Linked DNA regions of Homo sapiens: region 2 is linked to region 1. Evidence: fine-mapped expression QTL. A gene starts in region 1. The other region holds a variant in brackets. All regions are shown on one strand. Distances are from middle to middle. Region 1 holds the start of STAT4 (signal transducer and activator of transcription 4). Region 2 holds the start of MYO1B (myosin IB).

Evidence for each region. PIP is the estimated chance that this variant, and not a neighbour inherited with it, causes the effect.
Region 2: its variant is fine-mapped to the expression of STAT4 in tibial artery (GTEx, PIP 0.96). The same link has a PIP of 0.9 or more in fetal neocortex.

What each region holds. Positions count from the first base shown.
Region 1 is chr2:191,142,790-191,158,948 of GRCh38, forward strand. STAT4 (signal transducer and activator of transcription 4) reads right to left here and starts at 8,205. Exons shown (of 24, transcript NM_003151.4): 1 at 8,158-8,205; 2 at 5,287-5,415; 3 at 3,824-3,968. The coding sequence starts at 5,414. RefSeq lists a silencer at 7,845-7,894 and enhancers at 8,365-8,414, 8,545-8,624.
Region 2 is chr2:191,229,788-191,245,946 of GRCh38, forward strand. It overlaps MYO1B (myosin IB), which reads left to right and starts at 15,617. Exons shown (of 31, transcript NM_001130158.3): 1 at 15,617-15,839. MYO1B-AS1 (MYO1B antisense RNA 1) reads right to left here. Exons shown (of 4, transcript NR_186085.1): 1 at 16,132-16,159; 2 at 13,833-14,286; 3 at 2,080-2,190. RefSeq lists an enhancer at 15,503-16,125 and a silencer at 15,538-15,927. The variant C/T (reference allele first, on the strand shown) is at 12,090.

The DNA of each region.
Region 1 (16,159 bases):
GATCGGTAGTGTTCAGGGGCTCCGTGGGAAGCGAGAGAAGGATGAATATTGGAGAGGACAGGAGATTTTCAGGGGCCATGAAACTCTCTAGTATGATATTGTAATGGTAGATATATGACATTATGCATTGTCAAAACCCATAAAATTATACAACACAAGGAGTGAATCTTAATGTAGTCTTGAAATGTAAGTTAATAATAATGTATCAATATTATTTCGTCAACTGTCACAAATGTATGCTACCAATGCAAGACATGAATAATAGGTGAAACTGGGATGTGGAGCTGGGAAGGAAGTATATGAGAACTTCACTTTCTGCTCAATTTTTCTGTAAACCTAAAACTACTCTTAAAAATAAACTGCACTAATTTTTTTAAGGTCCATTAATTTTCTTAAAGCAAAGCATTCTTGAATTATCTGGGGCAGATATTTATTTTTAGCAAACCTTTAGCAAAAGACTATGGTTCTTGCTGCAGGTTTTAGAATCAATTATCTCCATACTCCTAACATTTCTGTGAGGAAAGTACCAGTGTGATTGCCCCTTACACTGCTGAGGAAACTGAGGCCAGAGTGTGTGAATATCTTACTCAGGGCCACATTGCAAGTGGCAGGGCCAGGATTCAAGTAACCCTTGCTCCTGGGTGTGAGTCTGCCTCCCCTTAAATAGGCCAAGGGCTGCTGAACGATGGTGTTTATTGCTTCCACCTTGGAGCTTCTTGAATTTGCCATCGGGAAACTGGTTTTGTTTTGTCCTTTATAGCAAGCCATTCCAAACTGTTATTGGAAGTAGGTGTAATATAAATAATAAAATACTGAAACTAGAGATCTCAGCTGTTCTATAAAGAACCAAAATAAATCTACCTTATACATCCCTTAGTTCCCCAGGTATCATATTGTTTACTCCTTTTTGCTGTAATTGTCAACATGGTTTGTATTTAAAATCCCAGAGGATGAAAATATTTAAACCAGATAAGCACAGCGTCAACAGCCTTTTGATAGGGAATTTTTTTTTTCTTTTTTGTGGGGAAGAGAGGATCTTATTTTTTAAAAAAGACTCATCATACCACCCTTCCCCGCAAAAAACACACACAACTTAATGGGATTATAGTAGGTTAAAAAGAAGCATAAAACTCAGGTTTGTTTAGGTGTAAAACCATAGCTGACAATGATTTTTACTACTAGCTTCTGTGTTGTTAATACAAATGCCCAGTAAGCACAATTTATAAATTGATATATATGGAAGCACAAGAAAGAGCAAGTGTTTTTTTCAACTCAAATATCTTAATTCACCAAATTGTTTTTTGAATTCCTAGTGTGCACTAGAACCATATTGAGTACTGAGGGTGAGGGAGGGGGGTCAGAAAAGGAGATCAGCCTTTTACCCTCAAGGACCTTGTGACCTGGTTTGACACACATGCAACACAGATGAAAGGGACAGAAGGAGATGCTGCTTACCTTGTAGTTGTTGCTGGAGGGCTGGAGGATGAGAACACAGACTAAAGCATGTGGTGAAGGTTTTCTTGTTGCACTGGAACCTACATAGATTCTTTAGGGATGGATGGGAACTAGACTGGTGGAAGAGGGATGGAAGAGCATTCCTGGCCATAGGACCGTCATGGACAAGGCTGAGTCATTCAAGAGTGTGTGTGACGTGTTCAGGAACAAGTAGTAGATCTATTTTTCTGAGGTAGGGATGTGGAGGAGCTCAAGGAAGATTGTTGGGAAAGGTCTAAAGAGGAAAGATGCTAGAGGGCCAATTAACACATGCAGATGAGTTTGTGCTCGAGCTGAAGCGTGACTGGGGGTAACTGCAGGTTTTTGAGCAGTGGCGTAGTGAAATAGAAGTGATGGTTTAACAAGGTTCGTCTGATACAACTGGCCAGAGGAGAAGCTTCCCTCACAATCTTATCCTCCAGCCCACAAAAGATGGGTTGTTTTCTTACCCCTGATTTACACTGAGAAAATCCTGCTATTTTACCTACCAACAATAAGAATCATTTATTGAATGCCTACATCTTGCCAGAAGAAAAGCTCCAGACTTCCTCACAATTCCAAAAGGTAGATAATAATTATCTTTGTTTACATTAAAAGATACAGGTCAGAAGATTAAGTGATTTGCTCAAAGCCACATTTGAGAGTCAGATTTTTAACCCAGACCTTCTTGGTTCCAAAGACCATGCATCATCTATTAATATTTTCCCCATCTGTGCTTATCTAGCAAAGTGACCTATGGACTCTTTACTAGTAGGCTAAGAGTTAGCAAACTTTCCTATAAAAGGCCAGATAAATGTGATATACATATATATCATATGTAAATATGAGACACATATATACACACATATATAATACACACACATATTTTTATTTTAGGCTGTATAGGTCATGCTGTCTCTATCACAACTTCTGCCATTGTAGTGTAAAAGCAATCATAAACAATATGTAAACCAACGAGTGTGGCTGTGTTTCAATAAAACACAGAAATTGGAATTTCATATAATTTTAATGTGTCAGAAATATTATTTTAAATTTTATGATCTATTTTATTTTTATTCTTTTCCAATCACTTAAAAATATAAAAACCATTCTTAGTCATGGGCCATATGAAAATGGGCAGTGGCCTTTTGACTTGTGGGCCATGGCATGCCAATCCCCATTTTAGGTTTATAGATTAGATCACTAAGCTAATAAAGCCACCATTAAATGATTTGTCTCCATAAAAGACAGATTGCTGTATGCTGCCAAAAATCCTGTTTTGTCGGCAATATGCTATTGTCCTGTTTTTAGTCAAGTGTCTTGCAGATTTACAGGGGATTACAAGGGCAAAGATAGCTCAGCGCAATCCAAACAACAATAGGAAAAACAATATATTTGTCCTTCTCACAAATGTAATGTCAAGAACATTTCTATTATAGTCTAGTTAAAATGTTCTAAAAATGTGTTAATTGTAGGTTTTGGATTCTAAAAATGTCTCCATGAAGAATGGCACAAAGCACTTTTTCTGTTATTTAATACGTTGTATGCACTCAGTAAATATTATAGCAGTCCATGGTCAGGGTTTATTACATTAGAACTGTTGGGTTTAGCTCCATATTAGCCTGCTTTTAATTCTTTAGATCCCTGATTCACTTACTTGATTTACTCACCCCTTAATCAGTAAACATTGCACATCTACCACAAGTCCAGACTTATGCTGGGTGCTGGAAATTCAAAGTTGAACACTAAAGTCCTTGCCTCAAGGAACTCATGATAGGGAGAGAAGTCAAACACATAGAAATAGCAATAATGTCGAATATACTAAATGCCACAGTATCGATGTGTTCTGGTGCTGAGGAAACACACAGAGATGGGCTCTGCCTGGGTGAACCAGAGAGTACCAAAGAACACTTTTAAAGGAGTGTGAGATCTGAACCAAATCTGTAAGAATACATTCACTCATGATGCTCTCATTTAGGAATGAGAACAATACTAACTCTAACTTGTTACCTAAGAGACAAAGGCAAGGGAGGGCTGCTGGAGAGCCGTGAAACTGTGGTCTGGTCAGTGTTGTTGAACTGAATCATAGCTAGTAAACAAGATACATGCAAGTCCCACATGCAACACACTTGTAATGTATTTTATACACTATACTTTTAGTGTATTTTATTTTCAACATTTCATGAAAAATGTTAGGTAATAAAATTGAGCACAAAATTTGTAAGTGGTAAGACAACTCAATTTTCCCCTAAATTTCATTTGAAAATAATATAAGGGTACATATTTAATTTTTAACTAAATTTAAGACTCATATATCCAAATATTTTGGAAAAGTAGAATGCATTCTTACCTGAAGGACCTTCCTAATTCTTTTTAGATTGTGTATCAAGAGTAGGTTTTTCTCTTTGGAAACACGACCTAACTGTTCATCCAGTTGTATTAACAAGTTTTGAAGAAGAATCGTTGCCATGGTTTCATTGTTAGAAGCTGCCTCCCTAAAAAAAAAAAGGATTATTACACAACAGAAAACAACTTTGTAAAATGTCTACTTTTTTACCATACTAACTTTAAAACAATAAACCTATTACATGGTGATAAGCATTTAAAAGTTTTAAAAAATTAAATTGTTAACATGAAGAGATGCTCAACATCACTAATCATTAGGGAATTTCAAGTGAAAATCAGAGTAAGATACCACTTCATACCCATTAGGGTGGCTATTATAAAAAGGAAAAGAAAAAACAGAAAATGAGTGTTGGTGAGGATACAGAGAAATTGTGCAATGCTGGTGGGAAGGTAAAATGGTCAATCACTGTGGAAAACTATATGACAGTTACCCAAAATATTAAACATAAAATTGCTATATGACCCAGCAATTCCACATCTGGATATATACCCAAAAGAATTAAAAGCAGGGACTCAAACAGATATTTGCATACCAATGTTCCTAGCAGGGTTATTAGCAATAGCCAAAATGTTTGAACAACCCAAATGTCCATTGACAGATACATTTATAAAACAAAATGTGATATATACAAACAATGGAATATTATTGAGCTTCAAAAAGGAAGAAAATTCTGATATGATACCTGTTAAACATGAATGAATTTTGAAAACATTACACTAAGCAAAATAAGTCAGTTACAAAAGGAAAAATATTGTGTGATTCCAATTATCTAAAGTACCTAGAGTAGTCAAATTCACAGAGACAGAAAATAGAATGGTGATTGCCAGGGGTTGGGGGTGGAGGACTAGGGAGTTACTGTTTAAAGAGTACAGAGTTTCAGTTTGGAAAGATGAAAAAGTTCTGCAGATGGATGGTGGTGATGGTTGCATAATAATGTGAATATATGTAATGCCACTGAATAGTACACCAAAAACAATGGTAAATTTTATGTTATGTGTATTTTACCACAATAAAAAAGATGGCTGAAAAAAATTAAATGGTATAAGGTGAATAGAGCTTTGAAGAGTATAAATCTTACTGAGAAAAAAATATTGATTTACATTGAGTCTGTGATAGAGAACTGACAATCAATTGATTTGCTTCTTTTTTTAATACATGAAAAATTATTTGGGTTTTTGTTTACAGAGAAAAGAAGCACTGGAACCATTAACTTTTCATTTACAATGAATGGAACCAGAAAGGACAATTATTCCCCTTCTTTGGGAAGGCTTTCAAATCCTTGAGAAAGTTCTTTACCTGAAAAGAATGCATCTACTGAGTAAAAAGTGGACCATAAAATAAATTCACATGGATAGAGCATCAGACATTTGTGCATCAACTTCTAGGGAAAATATGTTTGATCCTACCAGTCTTGATTTTCAATCCATTGGGCCAACAGATGCCGAATTTCCATGGGAAAGTTGTCATCATAGAATTGATCCACCTGCTCCAAAAACTTGATTTCTAACTGTTGGACTTGATTCCACTGAGACATGCTATAAAAGAAGGTGTAGAATTAGAGTTTTAAAATATTGTTCATAGCCCTAGTACATATTTTCTTCTTTCCTTAGAATTAGTCAATGTTATGACTGAATTCCAATATATCCAAGGATACAAAAATTTCACTAAGGTTTTTTTTCATAATTCAACCCTAATGAAGGGAGCAGCCTTCTTTCTGTGCCCCTAAACTACAGCCTTCCTTGCTCTAAAATGAACTCCTGTTCTACCTGCTCCAAAAAGTTTTCACTCCCACTCTGCCAAACACCCCACATCCTGCCCACAGCTGTCTATGTGAATTTCTATTATCAACAAGCTCTTTCCCTATCTCTTGTCCCCTCAACATTTAGACTTGGAGCAACTTGAAGGCAAACGTATTTGACATTTACTATACCTCCTAAAACCCTCTAAGACTTTATATGTGAGGAACAACCCCCCAAGAAGCTTCTTTTATATGAAATTGCCAAATTTCTTTTTTCTTTATTTCAGATTTGTCTGGCTTCTAGAGTCAGCTTTATGTTCTTGACTTCTAGTCCAATTTTGTCTTAGCTTCATGAAGAATTTTATGTATGCATTTTCGTAGGCTCCAGTTTTTTAAATTAAAAATATTTCTGAACCAGTGAATGTGTTTCATTTCTCTCTGTGAGGATCCATTATAGATGGGCAAAGCTCTTAAAGGATGTAGTCTTTTTGTCTCTGAGAAACATCTGATAGTGGTTAAACCCTCAAGTTACTTAAGGAGTAAGAAACCACACTTGATACCTATTTGGCAGCCTGTCATAAAAGAAAAGTACGCATTTCCCCCTTGTAACCCCACTCTGGCCAATTTAGAAGCTGTAGACATATTTCCTAACTCAGGAAAATTAGTATGACGCTGCCTCCTTGAAATTACAGCATTTTATGTTTTCCAAAGTCAAATTTTTGGTTGTTTTCTCAGCAATTCTAAGTCAAGTAAAAACACCAAACCCCCTTTTACATGATTAATCACCATAACATTTCAACATATCTCATAGATAGGCTAAGGTTTCCTTTTGCCTATAGAACACCAGGGTAATTTCATATATTTCATATACATATTCTTTGGGTTTTAAGTAGAATCATTTTGAGCACCTTTTCCCTGAGCTCCTGGTAAATGACTTAAAATTTATAAAAAAACGTGTTGCCAATGTTTTGCTAAAGAGAAAGCAAGTGGGAAAAGAAGTAATGTTTTATTTGCATATCATTTTATATTTATGAAAACCTTTACACTTTACAATTCTAGGCATATTGTAAATGCTCAATCAATGCTTGTTAAATGAAGAATGAGTGGCACTCCTGACATTGCTATGAATATGGTAGGTGGATATAAGTAGTATGTCAACTTTAAAAAGGAAAAACTTGAAGATCAAATAGGCGAAATGACGCCTGCCTAATGTGTGAGGCTTCTAAGGGACAACCTGAGGTTTCCTGAGTCTGAACCATTTGTTTTTCCAGATATCGGATGTATATATATTCCATCGGATGTGTATATATTCCACACAAAATTGGAACATTTGTTCTCATGCTACTATCAACATTGTCCTATCTATCAATTTATTTTAGTTAATGACAACAGAGAACATGAGTTGAAAATAGCATTACAGTTTTTCATCATACTATTGTTAAACCCCCGCTATGATTTGGATGAAAAATCTATTTTCTAACTAAAACTTACAGGTAGATGGGAGGAATAAGTTCTAGTGCTGTAACACTAGGATGAATATGGTTAACAATAACTTAGTGTATATTTTCAAAAAGCTAAGAGGATTTTGAATGTTCACAACACAAAGTAATGATAAATGTTTGAGGTGATGGATATGCTGAATATCCTTTGATCATAACACATTGTTCATATTTATTGAAATATCACTGTATATTCCATAAATATTTACAATTGTGTGTCAAATGAAAATAAAAGGAAAATTAAAAAAAATAAAAATAAACACCGAAAAAAATCACTACTAAGATCTGAGTCTTTCGGAGAGCTGAATTCAAAGCTGAAAAAAGGAAGAAGAAGGAATACATAGTCCTAGGACATTTTCTATTGCAGCCTCTGGGAACGCCTTTAGACATCCTTCAGCAGGTTTCTTTGCTTTCACTCTCTAGGGGCTACTTCTTTCTCATGAAAACTGTGACGTTGCTTCTGAAAACTCAGTGCCTGTCTGTCCTTTTTGCGTGCATTTCCTAGAAGATCCCACTAAAGGGGCATTTTGTCCCACCGTCTGTGAGCTGGTGGTGCCGCTTTGGCTCTGTGGCCTGTAGCTTGCAAAAGGAGATGACCTGCCCTAAAATGTCACTCGCGCCCATCAAAGCCACAGTCACCGGCTGCCGTAGCTGCAAGCTTTTTTCTGAAATCCAGGTACGCTAATCTAAAGTCAGACATCACAGCTCTAGAGAAGCTGGCTAAGAAAGTGAAGAGGGGCTCACTTTCAGCCTCCGCGAGGACACACCTCCGCAGCCGCCGCAGCTCCCCTGGCCCCCGCAGGGAGATTCGCCCGGGCACCGTGGCGCGGGCCTGCGGAGCGGTTTCCGCGGAGAACCCGTGCCAGGGCGCATCTGTGGGTCGTGGAGTCGGGCGCTTCCTTCTATAATAAGCCTCCTCAGGAAGGTTAAAATGAAGCAATTGTCAAAACGCCAAGGGAAAGCAAAGCTTCAGAGTATCCTGCATAATAAGCATGTCCTCCTTACAAGAGGCAGCCAGAAGGTGTGGTCTGGCCACTTACCTAGCGCTCTCTCAGCACAGGTCCCAGGCAGTGCTCAAGTCCAAAGTCAGAAGCGCCCCTCACAGTCCCTAGGAGAAAGCCGCTGACGCCATCATCAGTAGGGGATTTGCATTTCTCCTCCCACTTGAGGCTTTCCTGTGCGTCAGTGTTCGAGTCTCTGGGACTTTACTTGGGTCAGTTCCCACCCACTCTATTCTAGAAATGCTAACACGCAGAAACTGCCAGGCTGGAGCCCCTTCACCGGGCGTCCTCTTCCCTCTTATCCCTCCCAGCGGCTCTCGCAACTGCAGGTGGCTCAGCAGTGCCAGGAAAAAGGGGAGGGGCGGGGCATACATTTTCTTCAGTGGTTTCCTTAGACAATCTGAGATCCTCTGCAGAGTTACTTACCTGGAGCCCAGTTCTTCAGCTTCCTCTCTCCCTAGTATAAGGCTCCACTCAGCCTGGTGAACCACCCCTGGGATGGAAGGGATGGGTAGCCAGGATCAAAACACCAAACTCATAGACCTTACTGGGCTCCAATTCCAGCGGGGTCCGCTCACTCCGACGAGGGTGACCTGACCCAGAGGGTTGGGCCAAGTCCTGGGTAGGCCACCAGTGCTTGCCCTTCCTGACCTAGCCTCCTCCTACTCTCCTTGAGTAGCCTTGCCCCTGGTTGCTACGGTGCGTTCTTCTCCCTTTGTGACATCAGCCTGTTCTAGAATCACAGAGTTGGAGGAAGTCTTGGTCCCATCTAATGCTAAATCCTCTTTCATATCTGAAGAGACCCAGTGAGGTGACCAAGAGGACTCAATAAGTTAGCCACGGAGCCCGATAATAGCCCAGGTGTTTCCCTTCCCACTTCAGTGGTCTTTTCATTTCATCTCCTTGTAGTTAGCTCTTAACCCCTTGATTCACAGTAGGGGTTCAATAAAATAAAGAGAAGTCCAGGCGTGTGGCTCACACCTGTAATCCTAGCACTTTGGGAGGCTGAAGTGGAAGGACTCCTTGAGCCCAGGAGTTTGAGACCAGCCCAGGCAACACAGTAAAATCCCACCGTATATTAAAAAATCAATAAAAATGTTTAAGAAAGTAAAAATAGTAAAACAAAGACAAAAATAAAGACAGACAGACAGACTGAAAGAAAGGTAGAAAGTGTCACTCAATTTGGTTATACACATGCTTAGAGCAATATACCAAGGTGAAAGGCCTGCCTCCCTCTTCCCTGACGGGTTTCACACAGGTACACCCTCTGGATTCTTCTCTCCCAGGTGACATTATCATGTGCTTAAACTTACCACCCACCCCCAAATAGGTCAATCAATCCAAAGTCACACTTTCCATATCACTGTAAATTTCCTGGTTAGGTAGGCCTGGTCCCCACTGCTTGTTGAGCAGGCAGTTTCCAGGAGCTTATGCTGCTCTGACCCTACATAAGAAAGTGCCAATTTCAGGCTATTCCATAAGCTACTAAGCAAAGTCTGATTTTCTTCTGGAGAAGCTGTCACTGCCTATAGGAAAAAAATCCAAATTCTTGGCAGTTTAAGTTCTGTACAGTTTGGTCCCAACCTATCCAGGAAACTTTTCTCCCCTATAAGAGCCCATGATGTGACCCAAGCAGTCACCTCAGCTGCCCAGATTAACCTCATATTTCACTACCGAGGCTTTCTTCAACTGGATATTCCTCCCTGAGCCTACCTACTTAGTGAAATCCTATAGTTCTCAGTGAAGACTTCCCGATGACCTGAACCCACAGCAATGTTTCCCTGCTCCAAATTCTTCATACTTCCTGTCCAAACCAGCGCTCTCCAAGAGAAATAAAATGTAAGCCACATATGTAATTGTAAATTTTCTCATAGCCATATTAAAAAGGAAAAAAGCACAGGTGAAATTAATTTTAATATTGTAAATAACCCAATATATACAAGAATCTTAACATTTTGGCATATAATCAATATAAAAAATTATCAATAAGATACTTTGCATTCCTTATTTCATACTCAATCTCTGAAGTCTGGTGTATATTTAGCACTTACAGGGCATGTCAGTTAGGACTAGCCACATTCCAAGCCACATATGGCTAGTGGCTGCCGTGTTGGACAGTGCACATCTAGACCACTTATTTAGCACTTTTCACTTCCTGCCTCATAGTGTTAGTCACACTGGTTTTACATGTCCTTATCATTATCATATTCAATTGTTGAGTGCCTGCTGTACAAAACAGAGTTTGTTCTCCTCCTCCTTTTCAGGGCCTTACCTTGCGGCTTCCACAGCAGTTTTTAAACCTTTTGTTCTCAAGATACCATTATTCCCTTAAAAATTGTTGACAAACCCAAGGAATGTTTGTGTATTACTGTTCTGGATGAAATTTTTATTTACTGTGTTAAAACTTAAATCTGAGAAAAAATTAAAATATGTATTTATTCCTTCAAAATGACAATAATAAACCCACTCCATGTTAAACATGTTTTAAGAAAAACAAATATATCTTCCAACATGAAAAACGTAATGAGAAGAGTGGCATTTTAAAAATCTCTTTAATGTCTGGTTTGAGAGAAGACAGCTGGATTCTCATATCTGTTTCTGCATTTAATCTGCTGCAAAGTATTATTTTGGTTGACATATTTGAAGAAAGTATGGACTCACACATTTATGTAGTTGGAAAAGGGGAGTATTATAATGACCTTTTCAAATAATTATTCTTCTTTGATACCACATCAAAACTCAATGAGTGGTAGTTTCTGAAGGGCTAGTTGCATTGTGAAATCTGAAACCTTATCAACATATACTTTATGTATACTTTATGTAAACATATACTTTATGTATACTGTTACATTCAAATCTTTTGTTGTATATATTTTGAATGAAACTATTACCCACAAATTATTTTGCAATGTCAGACACTGGTCATTTAAAAAACATTGGTCCACTGAAGTATGCAGATTTTCTAAATGCTGCCTACTTCATCATACAATGAATACAACATTTCATCATACAGTGTTCAGAAATTCATGTCAGGTAATATCAATGTTGATCTCATCATGTAAGTATTTTAAATACTGGGAAGCAGTCAAGCTCAAATTCTAATTTTTGCTTGAAAGCTCAGTTTTATTATTGGCAGCAGATACTACCAGTTGTTTTCCTTAAAGTGACAGGCTCGTCTTGGCAACTCAAACAATCACGCAAGTGCTTTTCCTCGAGATGACCATCATCCTTTAATATGTGCCTTTTCCATTTCATCACAAAGAATATTAAAAAGACGTGTACTTAAGGTCTGAGATTTAATAAAATTAATAATTTTTACTGCTTCATCAAAAACATTCTTAAGTCAAACTGGCATTTTATTGTAAGTGCATGGTGGTGAAATATACAACTGCTAGTATAATTTGGCACCACTTCCTTGCTTTGTGCTAAGGCCCCAACAGTTTCACCCACCTTTGCTTTGGTACCATTGGTGCAAATGTCAGCAGGGTGAAAAGACAAAACTGTATTAGTATTATTATAAAAATAGTTTAACCTTGCAGATGCTCTAAAAAGATCTCGGGGACCACTCCCAGGGATCTGCAGGTAACACTTAGAGAACCTCTGCTCTATTTGCCATATGCTGCCAACTGTAACTCGTTTATCCAGAGATGTCTATCATGAGGGACTCTCTGCCCAAATACGCACTTTTTTCTTGGTTAAATCTTCTGCCTTGAACCTCTGTCTTCCTTCTGTATTTCATGAGTGGAGGAAGACATCTAAGAAAGGGCGCTTCTATGTCCAATTTGTTTCTCTTTTTTAGAATCAAAACTAAATAAGCAGGTCTGCAGTTTCTTGACCCTACACTGGCCCTGGCCTTGTCAGTCCCTCAGAGACAAAGACATAAAAAAATTCGAAGTAAAATGAAGAACAAACCAAATGCTAAAATGAAACCCCTGGAAGGTTTTCCAAATTCAAAGGCCCCCACAGATTCCTGTCTCCTTTCTCAAACAGCCACCCAGTTGCCCTGGTGATAAGCCCTATATCTAATTTTTTGCTGCATCATGCTAAGAAGAAAATCCCAGATTAAAGACTTTCAGAAAAGTAGCTTCTAGTTCTGGTGTGTCAATTTCTAGTGGCACAAAGTTATATAAGTTACCTAACTTCTCTAACCCCAAAACTCCCTGTCTATAAAAGTGGGGATATTATGTCCCACCTGAAATTGCTGGGAAAAGTCAAAGATATAATGTAAGAAATGGGATCAGGTTAAATGCTGAATCAATAGCTGTTAATAATAGAATAATAAACAAGTTATGGGTAACTTTGGCACTCACCAGGTTAACCCTCCAGCTTCCCTGCCACCTTGCTGTACAGAGCGGAAATGGAGATGAAGAGAGTCTGGGTGGGATAGGCAGGTTCACAGTTGTAAATAGAAGATAGGGTGGATTCAAAATCGGTTCTGATTGTGCTTTTCCCACTCTGCCCAGTGGAGCTGCTTTTGTGGGAAACAGAGAGAGGAAGAGAGAGGATATCACTCTTGCCGCTGTAAGGGAGGTAAACCAGCTCCACCTTCTCCCAATTTTTGTACAAAGAATATAAACATTTGCTAGTTTCAGTTTTGTGATATCACCATACTTCTCCTCTCCCCTCTTAAGTGTTCTGAGGAAACTGGGGTGAGCTGGAGTTGGAGGTTGGACAGACAATATGTACACGCAGAAAGATGCGTTGAGTTCCCTGGTTGCATATGCTAGTACCACATGAGTGGGACAGCAAGGATTATTGGGATAAGATGGCCTGGTGTGAATCTCATCGACTCATCTGTGTGCAGGTTGCTCTAGCTCCATCAGAACAGGAACATTGTCTTGTAAAAGGGTTTAATATCAATCTTGCTAATTTTCTGAAGTCCAGTTCCCATTGACTCTGCTCCCTCTACTGCCATCTCAGAAGCATTGCAATTTACAAATCATAGTCATATACCTCCATGCCAGACATAGTGCCAAGAACTTCAAATGCATTGTTTTAGTTAATCCTCACAGCACTCCATAGGATTAAATATCATGATTATCTCCAATTGGCAGATAAGGGGACAGAGGTTTAGTGAGCTTTAGTGAGGCTTATCAGAGGTAAGGACAGATTTGGGATTCAAACTAAGGACTGTCTGAGCTCCAGAAACAAAGCCCATAACCATTCTGCTTTACTAAAAATCTTATCTGCTCTTATGAGAAAAGCAATAACTTGCTCAGAGAGCTATAGAGGAAATAAGTTTGATGACTTAAACATGAATTCCAAAAAAGAGAGGATCATTGCATAGTCCAATCTTTTGGCTTCCCTGGGCCACATTGAAAGAATTGTCTTGGGCCACACATAAAACACACTAACGCTAACAATAGCTGATGAGCTTTAAAACAATCTCATAACGTTTTAAGAAGTTTAAGAGTTTGTGTTGGGCCGCACTCAAAGCTGTCCTGGGCCATATGCAGCCCATGGGCTGGACACACTTTGTCTACAGTTTTCTTTTCTTGTAATGTCTTCTGGAAGCTTGGGTAGAATTGGTATTATTTCTTCCTTAAATGTTTGAAAAAAAAATCACCAGTGAAGTAATCTCTGACTGGAGTTTTTTTCTGGTGGGAAATTTTTAAACTACAAATTCAATTTATTAGATCTAGGACTACTTAGGTTACCTATTTTCTCTTGAGTGAGCTTTGCCAGTTTCTGTCTTTCAAAGAATTTATATATTTCATCTAAGCTGTTATTATATACATAAAGTTGTTTATAATATTCCCTTTTAGCAAGTTATTCTTTTAATTCCCTTTTATCCCAGTTATTCTTTTAATAGCTGGAAAATCTGTAATAATCTTACCTCTCTCCACTCTGATATTGGTAGTTTGTGTCTTCTTTTTCCCCCCCCAGGACAGTTTTACTAAAAGTTTATCAATTTTATTTATATTCTCAAAGAACAAACTTTTGGTTTCATGGATTTTTTTCTATTGTGTTTCTGCCTTCTGTTTCATTGACTTCTACTCTTCGTTTCCTTTTATTTACTTCTGTTTCAGTTTGCTTTCTTTCTCATATATATATATATTTTTTTTTGAGACAGAGTCTCGCTTTGTCACCCAGGCTGGAGTGCAGTGGCACAATCTCGGCTCACTGCAACCTCTGCCTCCCGGTTTCAAGTGATTCTCCTGCCTCAGCCTCTGAGTAGCTGGGATTACAGGCACGCACCACCACGCCCAGTTAATTTTTGTATTTTTAGTAGAGACAGGGTTTCACCATGTTGGCCAGGCTGGTCTGGAATGCCTGACTTCGTGATCTGCCTGCCTCGGCCTCCCAAAGTGCTGAGATTACAGGTCTTATATATTTTAAGGCAGAAACTTAGGTCATTGATTGGATCTTTCTTCTTTCCTGATATAAGCATCTGCATATTTCTTCCTTTCCATTGCTTAAACTACATCAAACAAATTTTGATATGCTGTATTTTAATTTTCATTTATTCTACTTAAAATTTCCCTTGTGATTTCTTCTTTGATTTATGTTTGGGTTTTAATTAATTAATTAATTAATTAGAATTGTGACTTTTGTTTTCCAAACATTTGGATCATTTTCCAATATTTTCCTCATATCCATTTTTAATTTAATTCCATTGTGGTTAGATAACATACTTTTTTGTTATTTGAATTATTTAAAATTTATTGAGTCTTGATCTATGGCTGAGAATGTTTTGGTCGATGTTTAAGACACTTAAAAGAATGTCTTCTCTGCTCCTGTTGGGTGAAGAGTTTTTGCAATCTCAGTGAGGTCAAGTTGGTTGATAGTATTATCCAAGTCTTCTATATCATTCCTGATTTTCTTCCCATTTATTCAATCTATTATCAGAGGAATATTTAAATCTTCAGCTATAATCCTGGATTTGTCTGTCTTCTTTCAGTTCTTTCACATTTCATTGCATGTATTTTGAAGCTCTGTTATTAGATGCATAAACATTTATAATTGTTTTGTCCTTTTGATGATTTTCCTTTTATTTTTATGAAATGACCCTTGTTATCTCTGTTAATATTTTTGGCTCTGAAGTCTACTTTGTTTTATATTTATATAGCCACTGCAGGTGTCTATGATTAGTGTGAGCATGATATATCATTTTCCCAATATTTTACTTTTTACTTATTTATTTATATTTGAAATGTGTTTCTTGTCTGTAGTATATAATTGGGTCTTGCTTTTTTATCCAATTTAACAATTTCTAATTTCTGCTTTCATCAAGTATAAAGAGCTTTTTCCACTCTGGCTGTTGAGAATATAAATTATGCCTAGCCTTGTGTGAGCTCCAGAAATTTTTCCACCTGCTCCTCTTTAGTGAGTCCTCCCCACATCTTTGAGTAGTTCCTTTGCAAACATGGACTATTCAGTACTCAGCTGAAGAATCAAGGGGAGCCCTTTGCAGTCTTCTTCCTGGTACTCTGCCCCGTAAATTCTGACCAAACTCTCAACTCTGCCTCTTCAACTCTGAGAGAATGCCAGGCTCTATTTGAGCTTCCTCTTTCTGTGCTGGAGCTTGGAAACTTTCTCCAGAAAGTAAGCTATGAGAATCATAAAGATTGCCTCATTTGTTCACTTCTCTTGCACTGCCTATTTGTCAATTTCTGAAAAATCATTGTTTCACGGTTTTTGTTTGTTTGCTTAGCTGTGTGTTTAACATGAGCAGGTAATCCACTAGGGAAGGGTTGCCAGATTTAGCAAAACAAAATAAGACTGCCAGTTAAATTTGAATGTCAGACCAATAACGAATAATTTTTTCAGTCTATATATGACCTGCATTTATAGTATAAGTATGTTTGAAATTCAAATTTCAGTGGGCTTCCAGGATTTTTATCTGGAAACCCTAATCCCTGTTAATCTATTATGTCCAAAAGCAGAAGTCCCCTGAGACTCTTTTAGGTGCTAGAGCTTGTAGTTGTTGGAAATCTATTCAATTCAGTGTGAAATATTTACTGAGCTCATACATCACAATGAGAATAATTTAGGGTTGAATTGGCAGAGAAGACAAAATAAGCATATGAAATTAATAATG
Region 2 (16,159 bases), 87 kb after region 1:
TCACCTTTTTATAAAATTTTTTTGAGACAGGGTCTCACTTGTTTGCCCAGGCTGGAATGCAGTGGCACAATCTCAGCTCACTGCAACCTCTGCCTCCCTGGTTCAAGTTATCCTTCCACCTCAGCCCTGCAAGTAGCTAGGACCAAAGATGCTCACCACCATGCCTGGCTAATGTTTGTATATTTTGTAGAGATGGGGTTTCACCATGTTCCCCAGGCTGGTCTCGAGCTCCTGAGCTCAAGCGATCTGCCCACCTCAGCCTCCCAAAGTGCTGGGATTACACCGTGCCTGGCCATATTCACCTTTTAACTGCATATTCCTGTCATTTTTTAAAATTCCAGCGTTCTGTGATACAGTAGTTATCTAATGATTGTCTGGATGGTTCTGTCTCAGGGTCTCTCATGAGCCTGCATTTGAGCCCTGGACTGGGGGTGCAGTCATTTGAACGTTTGTCTGAATGCTTCTGAGATGGCTCACTTAACACGGCTGCTGGCAGGAGGCCTCAGTTCCGTACCACATGAACGTCTCCAAGGGTTGCCTTAGTATCTTCACAACATGGCGTCTGGTTTTTCCCAGAACAAGTGATCCAAAGAGCCAGAAGCCACCATGTGTTTTATTACTAATCATGAAGACACACACACACACCACCACTTCTGTCATATTTTAGAAGTGAGTCATTAGGCTAGCCCACACTTAAGTGATGGGTGGGAATTAGGTTCTATCTTTTGGAGGAAAAACTGTTGAAGAATTTGTGGACACATTTTAAAACCTCCACATATAGTATTCATCTAGGATGTCAGGAAATGTGGTGTAGTCAAGACTGGGTACAAGAATTATGAGACCCAGAGCAAAATAAAAACGCAGGACCCCTCTTTAAGAGTTTCCAGACAGTGGTAACAGAGCATTAATCCAAGTGTGGGTCTTTTGAGGCATTGGGCCCCGTGCTATGGCCCAGGTGCCACCCCAAGAAGCCAGCTCTAGCTATAGTGGTTAAGGGCATGAGCTTTGAAATTACGAGTTTGAGTCCCAGCATACAAATTTGAGTCCCACTGCATACAAATTATGTAACTCTTGGGAAATTAATCTAGCTGAAACTCAACTTCCATTTCTCTAAAAGGGGTATGATTAATTTATCTATCACTTCGGATTCTTGTGAGCATTAAATGAAGTCAGTATTGTGCCTGGCTTATTATTGTAGGCATTTAATAACTTGTCAATATTATAATGATTACCTTTAAGGAGCTTTAGTGGTAGAGAAGAAAAAAGGATTGAACTGATAACTCAGATTGGTGATTTAGCGGATTATCATAAACTCCTTAAAGTGGGAATAGCACCTTGTGCTCTCTGCAGTACCAACATCTCTTTGAATTAGCATGGATTCATGCATTCATGAATTTGAAAAATATGGCCTGCAAGCTACAACGAAAATGGCTAAGAAGATGTATTTCAGAAATGGCACATTTTCAGCATTCTAAAAGGTAGGACCAAAGCGACTATTTTAAGAAAATCCACATAAGAAGATCAATATTTCATTGGCTGTTGTAATATTAGGCATTTATCAGCACATTAGAAATGGTTGCCATGAACTACTTTCTATTAATAACTTGGTTGAGACTGAATATTAAACGGGAAACTTCTCATAGCAATATTCTCTTTGGGTGGCTCAAACAACAAAAACAAAAACTATTCCTGGATGAAGTCTTCATACTGGCAAAATTATTTCATGAAACACTTTATAGCTTCAGACAGGCCTCTGCTTCCTTTCTTATGCTGCTGAGCACAGCTCAGTAAAAGCCAGCAACAATCCTATGTCATTTGTACAAACTCCTCAGCCACAGCTCAGGTATGCCAGGGCGGGCGCTCTAGCAATCCCACTTTGAAGGTTCTATTTCAAACCAGATAACTGGCCTTTTAAAAGTTGATTGTTTTCATAAGGACTTTCTTCTATTAAGCTCTTAACCAAAGCATATTGCTGGGCCAAGACATCTTTAATCATCTGGCAAAATCCCATGCACCAGCCCATGAAGTAGAGTCCATGGAACCCAGGAAGTATAGTATGGGCTTTGAATTACTACTGACCTGCTGGGAGAGTTAATGCAGGTTCCAAAGGTGCTGCACCTGCCTCTTCTGAAAAGATGGTCTCATCAAAGATTTGAGTAAGGAAAGCAGGCAGAGGTGCTGGTTATTTATCTGGATGAGCAGCCAAACAGGAAACATTAAGAAATATAGCAAGAGTTGGGTTCTTTTCACAAACACATTAACATCAGAAAAATAAACAAGCCAACTTAAGTGTGATTAGAGGTTTTTTTCCCCCTTAACTCTAGGCGGCGTTGTGTTCTTAGCAATAGTCTTCTTTTTCTCAAAGAACTTTATTTATTCCCCAATCCAAAATTAGTTCCTTAATTTGAAACAGCCATAAACAAACATTACTAAAGAAATCCCTTGGGCTCTTTTCTCCCACACCCTATCCCCCCACACACATTTTTTCTGCTGCTTTGTTTGTTCTCAGTTCTTTTTCCCTTTGTGCTGAACAGAAGGGCCTGCAGTGATTTGGCTTTCTGAAATCCCTTCATAAGTTTCTTGAAAGATATTTAAATTCCATTTTGACAGGAGAGAATTAAATTCACATTAATTTCCATCAATAATGAATTCAATCTAAACAAACTTCAGTAACATCAAATTACGGATTTTAGTTCTCTACTGGTTCCTAAGGTTGCTTGCAGCTCTCTAATTCTTTTATCGGCCTATTCTAGCCTACTGCTGTTCCTGGAGTATGAATGGAGCCTCTAATCAGAGCAGCTGTCCCAGCAACCTTGGAGAGATTCCCTTGCACCTTTTCCTCCACTACTCCTCTTCTCATTTTCTTCTTTATTTTCAATCTTTGCCAACCCCCTTTTTCCTCCCTGTCTTTCTTTGTTTCACCTCCATTTCCCACTCCATATCAATGAAGAATCCCATAGTGATTTGGCTTTCCTCTTCAAACCCATCCCAACATCATCTTCATAAAAGGGAATGTGCTGGTGATGTCCCTGGTTGCTCTGGCCTTTCCCCTGCTCTGCTGTCTATCACAGGGGACTGCATTTTCCAGTTCCCTTGCCCTCTGGCTTCCACATAGGCTGAACCAAAGGGAAGCATAAACAGAAGACTGGAGAGTGGGAAGAGGGAGGAAGCCAGGGAATTTCACCTCCTCTCTGCCTGTTTTGATGGTGTCTCTGGCAGTGGCTGCTTCTCCTCTATGATTTTAGCTGCTGGCGAACAGCCCCTCCCTTCATTGTCTCAGCATCTGTCAGGAATGCCCCGCACTGTGCTTCTGACTTCTCCTATCTTCCAGGCTTTGGTAACACCATCTTCTCCCTGAGTTTCTCCAGCCCTGGGGGAGTTAGTGGCTTCTGACTGTTGTTATTCTTTCTGTTACCCCACTTCTTAATTCCTGGGTTCTGCTTCTTCCATCACAGGTATGACAAGTTCTTGGCCAGGCATGGTGGTTCATGCCTGTAATCCCAGCAATCTGGGAGGCTGAGGCGGGAGGATTGCTCGAGCCCAAGAGTTTGAGACCAGCCTACGCAACAAAGTGAGACCCTGTCTCTACAAAAAACTAAAAAATTATCCAGGTGTGGTGGCGTACATCTGTAGTCCCAGCTACTTGGGAGGCTGAGGTGGGAGGATTGCTTGGGCCAAGGAGGTTGAGGCTGCAGTGGGCTGTGATTGTGCCATTGCACTCCAGCCTGGGCAACAGAGCGAGACCCTGTTTCAAAACCAAACCAAACCAAACCAAACAAACCAAAAACACCAAAAAACAAGTTCCTGCATTAAACCCGTTTGAGACACCTACAGTGGTTTCTGTTTTCTTAATTGGGCCCTGACCAAAATAGGGGGTTCAAGATTACAAAAACATCTCAGATAACAGTTTTCTAGAGCGGAACGCTGGACAGCATTACTTTATTAATTTGCAAGTCACTTTCCCTTTCACTCCCATCTGAGTGGGCACGTCCTGTCTGCTTCGCACCAATGCTTCTGTACTCCAGTAATGTGTTTTTCATCATCACATGTCCAATAATTTTGAATCTCACCTGATAGCAGCATCCCCTGGCTTATAAATGTGGGAAATATTTGCTATGGAGGAGTGATTTGTAGCATTTTGTGAGTCAAAGGCCTTTTGGGAGAATCTAAGGGATGGTCAAAATGCTTTCCGCAGAGAAAAATGCACACGTACCATGATTGTGAGTGAGCCTGTGTACATCTATGTGTGTTTATGTGGTGCATACACACGCAACCACACACACTTTGGCATAAAGCTTGTCAATCCCAGATTCAGAACCCTACCCCTACCATGTATGGTCCTTGGCCATATAATATTCTTCTATCCTCATTCAGGATGCCCTGGGTGGTGCCTATTATGTAACTACAGTTTTATAAATAACTTAATTTCTTCTAGTTTACCTCCTTTTAAGTGATGAATTAAACTTCAAAACATGAAGTCTATCAGACACTATTTTTGTGTCAGACACTTTGGACTCACCCTAAGGAAGATAGTTCCATGTTTTACTTGTGTAAAAAGATGTCTCTATAGTGATATTGAAGGATTCTGTATGTGAAACTGTAATTTCCTCCTGCTGTTTTAAGATATTCCTCTTTCTTATTGGCACCACATGAGATAAAGTTCGGTGACTGGGGCAGAGATTTATGAAGTGTTATTGTTGAATATATGTGTATGTTGCTTTCCTGTGGTGAAAGACCCATAACCCAAGACTTCCATTTTGGGATTGATTTGGGGCCTAGTGTAACATGTATGCTGTAATAAGCCATGGCAGATGCTGTCTATTTACTTCCTGCTGTCCCATGTGGGTTTCAGAGTGGATAATTTTGCTCATTCTTTTGGCCTTTGCTGTGGCTTGTCAAAAACTGGACTCATGTTCATAACTCTGAGAAGTGCTCAGCTGTGAAATAAGTACTGAAAAGATGAAATACAATTGATCCTGAGTCATTGTGATCATTCAAGCCCATGTAAGCAAGAAATAAGTATTTAAAGTGTCCCAATAAATCTTCTCTTTGAGCTTAAACATTTAGAAATTTAGAATACTTATAGACTGATTTCTGCAGGAAAATTAAGAAAAACATATGTGTTGGCTCTGAAGTAGAGATAGAAGTTATTATGAAACATTAGTGATAAGTTGAGTGGGGTCAGCCTAGTGCATCTGTTTCTGCAGAAGTGGGAATTCTTTAGCATCAAGGTATGAGAGTGTATAGCAGAAGTACAGGAGATGTCAATTAATCACTGTCTAGAAATAAAAAATCAGCTTTATTTTAAACAGTGTAGCTATTTGTTATATTTTTGCTTTTTACAACTATTATGCAAAAATTATTGGGGTTTGCTATAAGAAGATGGGGCAATCTTTCAAAGTGAGTGATAACAGCTATGAAGGAGCCATGAAAGAAGATACTGGAAACACTTGGTATTCATTCATTTGTGCACACATGCATACATGCATGCATGCAACAAGCATTATTGAGTGCCCACTATATTCCAGGACTTAGGTTACACACAGCATTGGAAAATAAATAGACATGATTCTGCCCTCAAGTTTGTCTCAGTGTAGTGAAAGAGACTGATAATTGAATAGGTAGTTTGATCATGGTGTGATATACTCCATGATGTAGGCAACAGAATTTTATCAGAGCACTGAATAAGTGCTCTTTTCTTGTTTGGGGGATCAGAAGACCTTTTCAGAGGAGGTAATGTTTTCTGTCTCAACTAAAAATACAAAAAAAAAATTAGCTGGGTATGATGGTACACACCTGTAATCCCAGCTACTCAGGAGGCTGAGGCAGGAGAATCGCATGAACCCCGGAGGCGGAGGTTGCAGTGAGCCGAGATCATGCCACTGCACTCCAGCGTGGGTGACACAGAGAGACCCCATCTCAAAAATAAATAATAAATAAATAAATAAATAAGAAAGAAAAAGAAAAAGAAGGCAGTAGGATGCCAAGTGTCAGAGGAGTCAAATGCTACGAGGACCCAAAACTGCCTTTAAGATGTGGCAACTGGTGGGGCGCGGTGGCTCATACCTGTAATCCCAGCAGTTTGGGAGGCTGAAGTGGGAGGATCACTTGAGCCCAGGAGTTCAAGACCAGGCTGGGCATAGGGAGACTTCCTCCCTACAAAAAATAAAATTAGCCGCCAGATATGGTGGCGTGTGCCTGTAGTCCCAGCTACTTGGGAAGCTGAGGCGGGAGGATAGCTTGATTCTGGGGTTGTACCACTGCACTGTACACAAAAAGCCTTGGTGACAGAGTGAGACCTCATCTCAAGAAAAAAAGAGAAAAAGAAAAAAGAAACGATGTGGCAACTGACAGATGATCACTGCAGACCTTGGCAAAATCAGTTTTAATGTAGTCATAAGAGCAAAGGACTGGGGTGTGAAAGTGAAGTGAGAAAGTAGACAGAAACCATATACTAAACTTTAAAAAACTTGACTGCTGGGTAGAGAGCTGTTAAGATACAGGCTTCTTTTTCAATAAACATACAAATTTCACTTTGTCACCCCTAAATTCTGATCAGATAGAGCCCCCTTCTCCCAGAAGATCATAGCTCAAATTTCTGGATACTTCCACCTACCAAACTGATTTCTTAAAACTTTACTTATTTATATTATAAAAGCAATCTTTTTTTCCCAAAAATATATTTATCATATAGTATACTATAAAGCGTCATCCAATACTTAAGACTTTGATATGCCCATCACACACTGAGGTTACTAATGAAGATAGAGTTCACCTGGACATCTCAGTGATAGGGGTAGGAGGGGGTATAATCTTTAAGTTCCAGAATTTATTTCAAAGGCAAGAAGTTATGGATAAACTATTGAACAGAAACCAGGTAGAACTATGTTGTTTGCAATAGCAACTAGCTTAGGAAACAGCTGGTTTGGAGTTTGAAGATTTCATATGTATTGGTTTGGGCTGCTATAATCAAAATACCATAGGCGGGGTGACTTAAACAATGTTTATTTCTCATGGTTTTGGAGACTGAGAAGTCCAAGATTAAGTCATTGACAGATCTGGTGTCCAGTGAGGGCTTGCTTCCTGGTTGGTAGGCAGCCACCTTCTTGCTATATCCTCACGTGGCTGAGAGAGTGAACGTTGGTTTTTCTCTTCTTATAAGGAAACTACTCCCATAATGGGGGTTCTACCTAATCACCTCCCAAAAGTCCTACCTTCTAATACCATCCCACTGGGGGTTAGTGTTTCAACATATGAATTTTGAGAGGACATAAACATGCAGTCCATAACACCATATATAAATCCTCACATATATGTAGTGGGCCAGCCATTTTTGAAGGCTCTAGCAGATACATGCACCACCCCCTCCCCCATCTCTATCAGCTCTACCTAAAATCTTGACTTTATTCTCTTTTTTGCATTAAGGCAAGCTCATCAAACTGGCCCAAGGATCTTGGATGCATCGCCCTTGGCAGATTGTGTTTCTTCTTTGAAATTCTCCTTTGAAGTGGCCCTCATTGCCAACCACCAAGCCTGCAATGGGGAGACTTCCCCCAGTACTCCTACCGATGCCTCCCACCCTGCCTACTACCTTGGACACATGACTTCATGATATGGAAAGAAGAATCTCTTCTGGAAAAGAGTGCAATAAAGAAATCCAAGGACCTGCACTCAAAGCAAATGTTCTCCGTGGGTGATTAGTATAAACCCTCATTCAGCATAAGTTGGTTATTAGATTTGCCAGTCTCTAACATGACCTAACGGGAAAAATCACCAAGTACTGAAATGTTCTGATGGAAGGGTATTAGAAAAAACCACTCAAGCAATATTTATTTATTTATGTTTTCAGTTGGGCCAATTCAGAAAAACAAAAATTTGCAGGCCACATATTTTGTCCAAGATGAAAATAGCTTTATTATTTTTTCCTGATTATAAAAATAATACTCATTTATTATTACAAAACTTGAAAGTTATTTGTATGAAAAGAAGTAAATATAGCTTGAAATCTGAAAGTTCATAGTGGGCCACAGTTTAAAAGGCAATTCAAGTAGTTTCTTTTTTATTTGATTGGCTAGAAAAGTGTTGATGAGTGACTTTTAGTTACTAAATTTTGAATATTTGAAATTCAATATTTAAATGTTTGAAAAAGAGGACCATAAAGGCCGTTTTCTAATCTTTTACTCAGAATTGAAATCCTGGATTGTGCTGTAGCCCTTGAGCCCCAGGTTGCACATTACTGATTTAAAAACACTTGGAACGACACGAGAGGTCAAGAGGGCTGGTGAGGCCTGGGGGAGCCTGGAAGCAGCATCAGGGTCCTCGTTGCCTTGGGACTGGGGGGACGTTACAAAGGAACAGGGAGTATATCCAAGAAGACAAAGACCTGAAGCTAGACCCTACCTTCTAGGAAGTCACAGACCATGACCGTCATGTTTACCATCTTGTTGTAGTGACAGGGCTAGCACAGGACTAAATAGATACTCAGTAAATACTTCTTGATTTAGGACAAATTTTATCTACTTCACTCTTTGGCCCTGGGGTAGTGGTGCCTGATTACAAGTCACTAGAATGGAAGAAGTCCTCAGGAATACTCAGTAAATACTTCTTGATGTAGGACAAATTTCATCTACTTCACTCTTTGGCCCTGGGGTAGTGGTGCCTGATCACAAGTCACTAGAATGGAAGAAGTCCTCAGGGTTGAGACTGTTATATGTCTGATAATCTAGAACAATTACAACACCCATCAAAGTTACCCAGTGGGACTAAAAGTATTTAGGCACCAAGGAACTTATGTACCAAAAATAAAGAGATTCTTCTTCCCCTGCCCAGGGTAAACCTTCAGGGTGATAGCTGCTTTTGACTGATAAAGATTTATAAGGCAAACTATAAAATTATAAAACATGATTTTCAATTTAATGAAACTGTGGACTTGAAGAAACATGCAGGTCTTTGAAGGAACCCCTCAGGGAGTAGATAAGAGTTTTGAAGAGACTAGGAACGAATGACTTTTTGAAGCAATTTATAGACCCAATGGCCCTGAGGGGAAAACGTTTGGGGCCTATGTGCTGTGTCAAGATTATCTCAGGTCCAGACTCAAGATCTATGGGAACTTTGTAGCACTCCCAGTCACTGAGAGGGGGGCTGGGGACAGATGAGGTTGGGGCCTGGCAAGAGGGCCCATAAGAATGTAAGACAAGCTTCTGCTCTCTTCTCTTACTCATATTGGCATGAATGGGTTTCAGGAAAAATACCCAGAGTATAGCATGTGTCTAATGGGAAGGATTATGCAGGCATCTTTATTTAGCAAAGGCCATGCTTGTCTTGGGGAGTTGGGTTGCTTGTCAACACCCTGACCTCCATGGTATGAGTCTTCCTCTGCATGAGATGGGCTGTGCTTTGGTGCTACTCTCTATAAACTTTTTCCAGCTTTATTCAAAGTTTAAGAACATCATTCCTGCAACTCCATCAGCAAGAACTGCTTTTGTCCTACCTTGCGCTCTGGAAAGTCTTTAATGAGATATCTGAAATTCTTGGCAGAGATTATAGGCTAACTTGATTTACCTAACATAATAATAACTCATGAAATTAGTTCCTCAATCTAACACTATTGAGTACTTTCTATGTTCTTAGGCTCTGAGAACACAATAGTGAACCAAACTCCACCCTCATGGAGTTTCTCATGTCGTACAGATGTCAAGATTGAGAATGCAGCTGAAATAATGGGCAACTAACCTTTTGCTTATATTTCTAATTTAAATTTTGGTTTATTCTGTCAATGGTCCCTAAACCTAGAGTTATGCCATTTTGGTTGTTAATACAATAGGATATTTTTGAGTTACACACAATTATCTTTCTCTACAGCATTTTCATATGCTAACACCTGTGATGAATGTATGCACCAGATCAAATATATGGATTTAGTTTTAGGGACTGAAGCAGAAACAGACTATTACGTCATATGTTTGCTAAATTACTTTTCATTTGGTATAGGTGGCCAATATTTTTTTTCCTTTGCCATAATATTTGCTTTTCCTTGCAGTACTCCTAGGGTCTCCCCAGCAATGAGGTGACAGCTCCCCAGTTATCATTAGAAAAATGAAAATGATTTTTTAAAAAGATTGGGAAAAAGTCTAGCCATTTTTCAGATTGATTTATTGTTTCACAGCTAGGTTTTGCCATCATAGTACTAACCTGCTGTAGCATGAGAAGAAATAAGAGACAACTATTTTACTAGTTGAAATGACAGAATGCTAAATTATAAAATGTCAAGGGAAAAAATTTAGGCAATTTAAATTTCCTGGCAATGGGTCTATAATTTATTTGTGGCTCAGAGTACTCTGAGCTGTAGAGAAATGCATTTTGTGGAGAAAAATTATACTTTTTCACTGCCTGATTTTAGTGCTCAAATTACATTTTTTTAAAATAAAGAATTGTTTTTGATTTTCAAATAGTCTAGTACAGTACCTAAAAGGGACCCTATTTGTGAGCTTTTCAAATTACTCTTTTTATCCTCAAATAGCTTTAGTAAATTTTCTCCCTGCCTGGGATAAGTTCCATCGGTCTTTTTACCTTCAAATATTCTTGATGTAATTTATCTATAGTTTGTTAAATACTTAGAATAAGAGTTGTGTTTTTACCATTGAGTTTTGGACACCGACAATGCTATAGAAACATTTTTTTTTGTAATACCTAATCTGAATTTCAAATAATACTTTAAACATGAAGCACTTATTTTTAAAGCACTCTTTAAATATATTTTAAAATATTTTATTTTGTATGAAGCTATTTAAGAAATAGCTAACTCAGTGCTTACTGCATTTGGAGGACTATCCTAAACTAAGAGACATATGCTAAAGAAATAATACAGTACACTTGACCCTTGAACAACTTGGAGATTAGGGACGCTGACCCTCCATGTAGTCAAAAATTCACGTATAACTTTTGACTCCCCAAAATTTAACTAGTAATAGCCTACTGTTGACATATCAGCCTTATGGATAACATAAATGGTCTATTAACACATATTTTATATTGTATCATATATTGTATTCTTACAAAAAAAGTAAGTTAGAGAAAAAGGAAATGTTATTAAGAAAATCATAAGAGAAAATATATTTGCTACTCATTAAGTGGAAATGGATCATCAAAGTCTTCATCCTCATCCTCTTCATGCTGAGTAGGCTGAAGAGGAGGAGGAAAAGGAGGAGTGGGTCTTGCTGTCTCAGGGGTAGCAGAGGTGGAAGAGGTGGAGGAGGTGGAAAGGAGGCAGGAGAGGCAGCCACACTCAGCGTAAGTTGCCTGCCTCAGCTTCACCATCTCTAAAATGGGATTATAATATAACCTACCTCGTTGGGCTGCTGTGCAGCTTCAACGAGTTAACACATATGTAGAGCATTTAGAATATTTCCTAGGATAGTCAGCTCTCTAAAACTGATGTTATCTCAGTCCTGGTGTTTTCGAACTGATTGACTAGTTTTATCTCGAGGCCTACTATCTAGTTGGAGAAGTCAAACATCCAGAAGAGGATGAATAAAAAGATTTCATGACCTGGGGCAAATTAATAGGTACTGAGAGGATGTGGCATTCAGATGCTACCATACGAAAGAAAGCAGAATCTAATTCAAGATGATGGTCAGGAATAGGTGAAAACCGAATTTAGTTTGAAAGGATAAGTAATGCCTGGGAATAGTGACCCACACCTGTGATCCTAGTGCTTTGGGAGGCCAAGACAGGAGTATCACTTGAGGCCAGGGGCTCAAGGCCAGCCTGGGGAACAATAGTGGGACTCCTATCTCTACAAAAAATACAAAGAAATTAGTCGGGTATGGTAACATGCACCTGTAGTCCCGGCTGCTTGGGAAGCTGAGGCAGGAGGATTGTGGGAGGATTGTTTGAGTTCAAGAGTTCAAGGTTACAGTGAGCTGTGATTGTGCCACTGCACTCCAGCCTGGGTGACAGAGCGAGATCCTGTCTTTATTTTATTTTTTAAAAAAAGATAAGTAAAGCAGGTGAAAACTGTTTGGGTGGGTAGATGAGAGACAAAATATAGCAAAAACAAAGACTGAGAATTTTAAAGATAGAGTCTTTAA[C/T]ACATTCAACATGATGTAAAATACCTAAGGACAAACAGTATGAGCCGCTTCATAAACTTAGTTGAATGAAGACAGAGCCAGTGAGAAAATCTAAAAGTATGACTTCCAGTCCACTTTTATGTTTGCTACACCAAAAGGCAGTCATATGGTTCTTTCGTCAGTCTTCTTGTCAATGTTGAACTCCTTTTAATTTTCTTGAAAGGGCTCAAGTAAAACCAACTAAGAAAAAATAAGTCTTACATGCCTAGTGGTAATTACCTTCCTGGGATACATAGAGATATGCTTTTACTTCTGTATTTTCCACAAGGATGGCAAGATTTCAATTGAATGAATTTAAATTGTTGCATGTTTCCATTGAGGCAAAGCACACTTCTTGTATTCTTTTATTGCACTCTTGTAATTTGATAATTTATGTTTTTCACCCTAAATCTCAATAATAGTTTTCTACTTCTTTTTATTTCTTTCTGTTTCCTCCAAATAGATTGAGGAGAAAGTAAAAAATGCCTTTGTAGTTGATGGATTTATTATCTATTCTTTTTTTTTTTTTTTTTTGAGATGGACTCTCGCTCTGTCACCCAGGCTGGAGTACACTGGCGTGATCTTGGCTCACTGCAACCTCCACCTCCTGGGTTCAAGTGATTCTTCTGCCTCAGCCTCCTGAGTAGCTGGGACTACAGGAGCGTGCCACCACGCCTGGCTAATTTTTGTATTTTTAGTAGAGATGGGATTTCACCATATTGGCCAGGCTGGTCTCGAACTCCTGACGTCATGATCCGCCTGCCACAGCCTCCCAAAGTGCTGGGATTACAGGTGTGAGCCACTGCGCCCAGCCTATTATCTATTCTTGACAATTGTGGGAATAACTTTAATCTGCTTTTTATAATTTCAAAAGTTGTTGATTGATTGGTTTTTGAAAAAAATGGCCAGGAAGGTAAAAGTGTTTTAAAACCTGTATGTCCTCAGAAACTTGGGTTTTGAGATTTATGAAAACTAGGTAAACAGTATTTTTAAAAGAGAAGCATGATTTTTCTCTAGAAATATTTTTGGCTAATAACTTGGTTCATTTTCTTAGTGTTTATTAGGATAAGTTCTACAGTTTCTATTATTTTCTTTTTTGAACTTGCTAAAATCATGGAGAAAGTCTTAATTGTCCTCACTATGCGAGGTCCTTCTAGAGGCCGAACTGTTCTGACATAACTGTGTCCTATCCCTTTCTTGAGTCAGGAGTTTCAAAACTTTACTTCTAGTAGCTAGCTATTTTGATAGACCTACTCAGCACATAGTTGTCTCAAACCTACTTTTTCTAAAATCTGGCCACCTTCCAAGATCAAAAGTTTATAGAATTCCCCCACTCTTCAATTTGTATACATCTTATATTCATGAACCTGCCATCTGCATTTCTGCTATTTTTGAAAAGCTGAACTGGACAGTAGAGGTCAGAAGTTCCATGAACTGCCAAACTGCTATAAGCAGTCACTTGGGAACCTAAACTCAGACAAGCAAAATGGAGAAGTGAGTCTAACACACGTCACCAGGTAGCAGGTTCATATGTTGCCTATTGTGAAGGCTGGGATCTCCAGGGTTTTCATTATGCTAGGTTATCAAGGTCTGAGGTAGTGTGCTTGATAGTGAAGACTATAGAGTCAGACTATCTGGGTTCAAATTCCAGCTCTGTCACTGTTCTAGGTGTCTATTGCTATGTAACAACCACCCAGATGACAATCTTTTATTATTATCACTTACGTTTCCGGGGCCTGATTTGGCTCAGCTAGGTTTTCTCTCTAGGTCTCTCAGGCAGCGTGGTCAGTGACTGTGGCTGGAGTTCTTTCAAAAGCTCGCCAACTCACATGCTTGATATAAGTTGTACTGGCAGTAGACCAGGTCCTCAGCTGGCACCATCAGCCCAAACACCTACACATGGCCTTCCCTGTGGCTTGAGCTTCCTCACAATATGGCAGCTGGGTTCCAAGGGTGAGTGTCCCAAGGGAGAGCCAGGTGAAAACTTCATCTCCTTTTATGACCTAGGTTTGGAAGTCACATAGCATCACATCTGCTGTATTCTATTTGTTACAATCAAATCACTAAGTCCAGACCATATTCAAAAGGAGGGCAATTAATATCCACTCTCTAATGGGAGTCTTCAAACCACCATAGCCATGTATTCCCTGAAGACCTCTCTGTCCTTGGCTTTGCTGGTCTGTAAAACAAGGATAATGAGAGAAACTTACCTCAGAGCTTTTTGTGAGGATTAAACAAAGAACAGTCCCTGGTACCCAGTATGTGTTAGTTTCGCCCATTATCACACCACTTGTACATCTGAAGTGATGCTGATGGTGACATCAATGATGAGACAGTTCCCAGCAGATATAGTCTGTGAAGGTCCCACCTTTCCAAACTCTACTAGTGGCATTTAACAAATCCCAGCGCCTGTGGTTCTTATGCCAGTGGGAACAGTTACTATATATGGTCTGAATTCTTTGGTTCACCTCACTTTAGTGACAGTTTCCAGATACAGGTCAGTCCATTTAAACCTGGCCCATTTATGGCAATTTATTTCATTATAGGATAAAGTAGTTAGAACCATGAGTAATAATTACTGTGTCTACAGTGCTTTTAACACCTCAGCCAAGTAATCCTCATCTCACCCAGTGAGTAAGTTTGAATGCGCACCCTTCCCTGTGCGAGGATGAAGAAACCAGGACCTGGGTCAAGAGGATTGTTCTAAATTCTCCAATGAGGCAATAGGGCTTGAGTGAGAAGGTGTGTGTGTGTGTGTAGGGGGGGTGTCCTGATTCTCTGGCCCCTACATGCCTGTATAATATACCCCATCACTGATCATTACTCAGGACCTGTTAATACACTCTATTCAAATACGTATGGGTATTTGAAATTTCTTTTAAACTACCTCTCATGTATTTATAACACAAAGAATTGGCCAGTGTCTATTTCCCACAATGTGAGATTAAGTAATTTAAAAGATACTAAAAGTCTTGTAAATGAAGACACACCACACCACTCAGTATAATTTTTTTCTTTTTCTGTGAAACTAATATTTTCTGATATTCTCGGCATCCAAAAATTTTCATCTTGGGGAGGAGGAAAAATTGAGACTTACTCCCACTGTTTGCCGGAATGTGACCCCAGGCTGGCTTCGAGTTGTCAAATGTTGTATTTCTCATTTTATGTCAGTGAGTCTGGAAGCAAAAAAGGTAGAAAGACTGCCTTCCGTGGGGGCCGCGACGATCGCCCCTCCTTCCCTCAAGCCTCGTCCCATCCAGGCTCGCCCCGGGTGCGGAGGGTCGGGCCGCAAACCCGCAAGGCGCGGAGGCCGCCGCGACGCTCACCGGGGGGCGCTGTGAAGCCGGCACCGGGCGGACAGAGGTGAGTCGGCTCGGAGGCGGTGGCTCCCGTTCCTGCCCGCGCGCCGAGGGGCGAATCCCAGGCAGCGAGGTCGCCGCCCCCGCCCCTCGGCCGGCCCCTCCGCCAGCGGGCGAGAGGGGAGTGGCCGGGCTCCTCCCGCCGCCGCTGAGCACTCCGCAGCTGGGTGCGCACGGGAGCCTCAACCGCGGCGCGTGGAGGCAGTACCAGAGCGCGCGGCGCGCAGTCGGCCGGCAGCCGCGGGACAGCCTTGGCAGAACAGCCGCGGCGGGAGCCCCGCAGCCCCGGGCTGGGCCCGCGTCCCGGAGCGCCACCGGAGAGCGAGGACGACGTGGAGGCGGAGTGGCGCCCGGCGAGGTAGCGCCAGGCGAGGTAGCGCGAGCGCTTTCTCTCTCTCTCCCCTGCCCTTCCCTCTGCGTCCGTCGTCGGCCCCCGAGGCGCCTGCTCCGCGCCTTTGTGCCCGCGGTCCCTGGCCCCGTCGCACCCTGCGGGCGGGGGTCAGCGGGCTCTGCCGCTCTCTTGGGAGACGCGGCGCTGCGGCGGGAACGGCGCACGCTGTAGGTTGCGGAGGGTGGTCGTGACTCCGCAGTGGCTTCGGGGGTGGCGGGAGGGAAGAAGGGCTTGTAAACTAAGTTGCTCTTACTTTGCCCCATGCCTCTCGTACCTGTGGGCAGAGTCGAATCTCGGCTGTC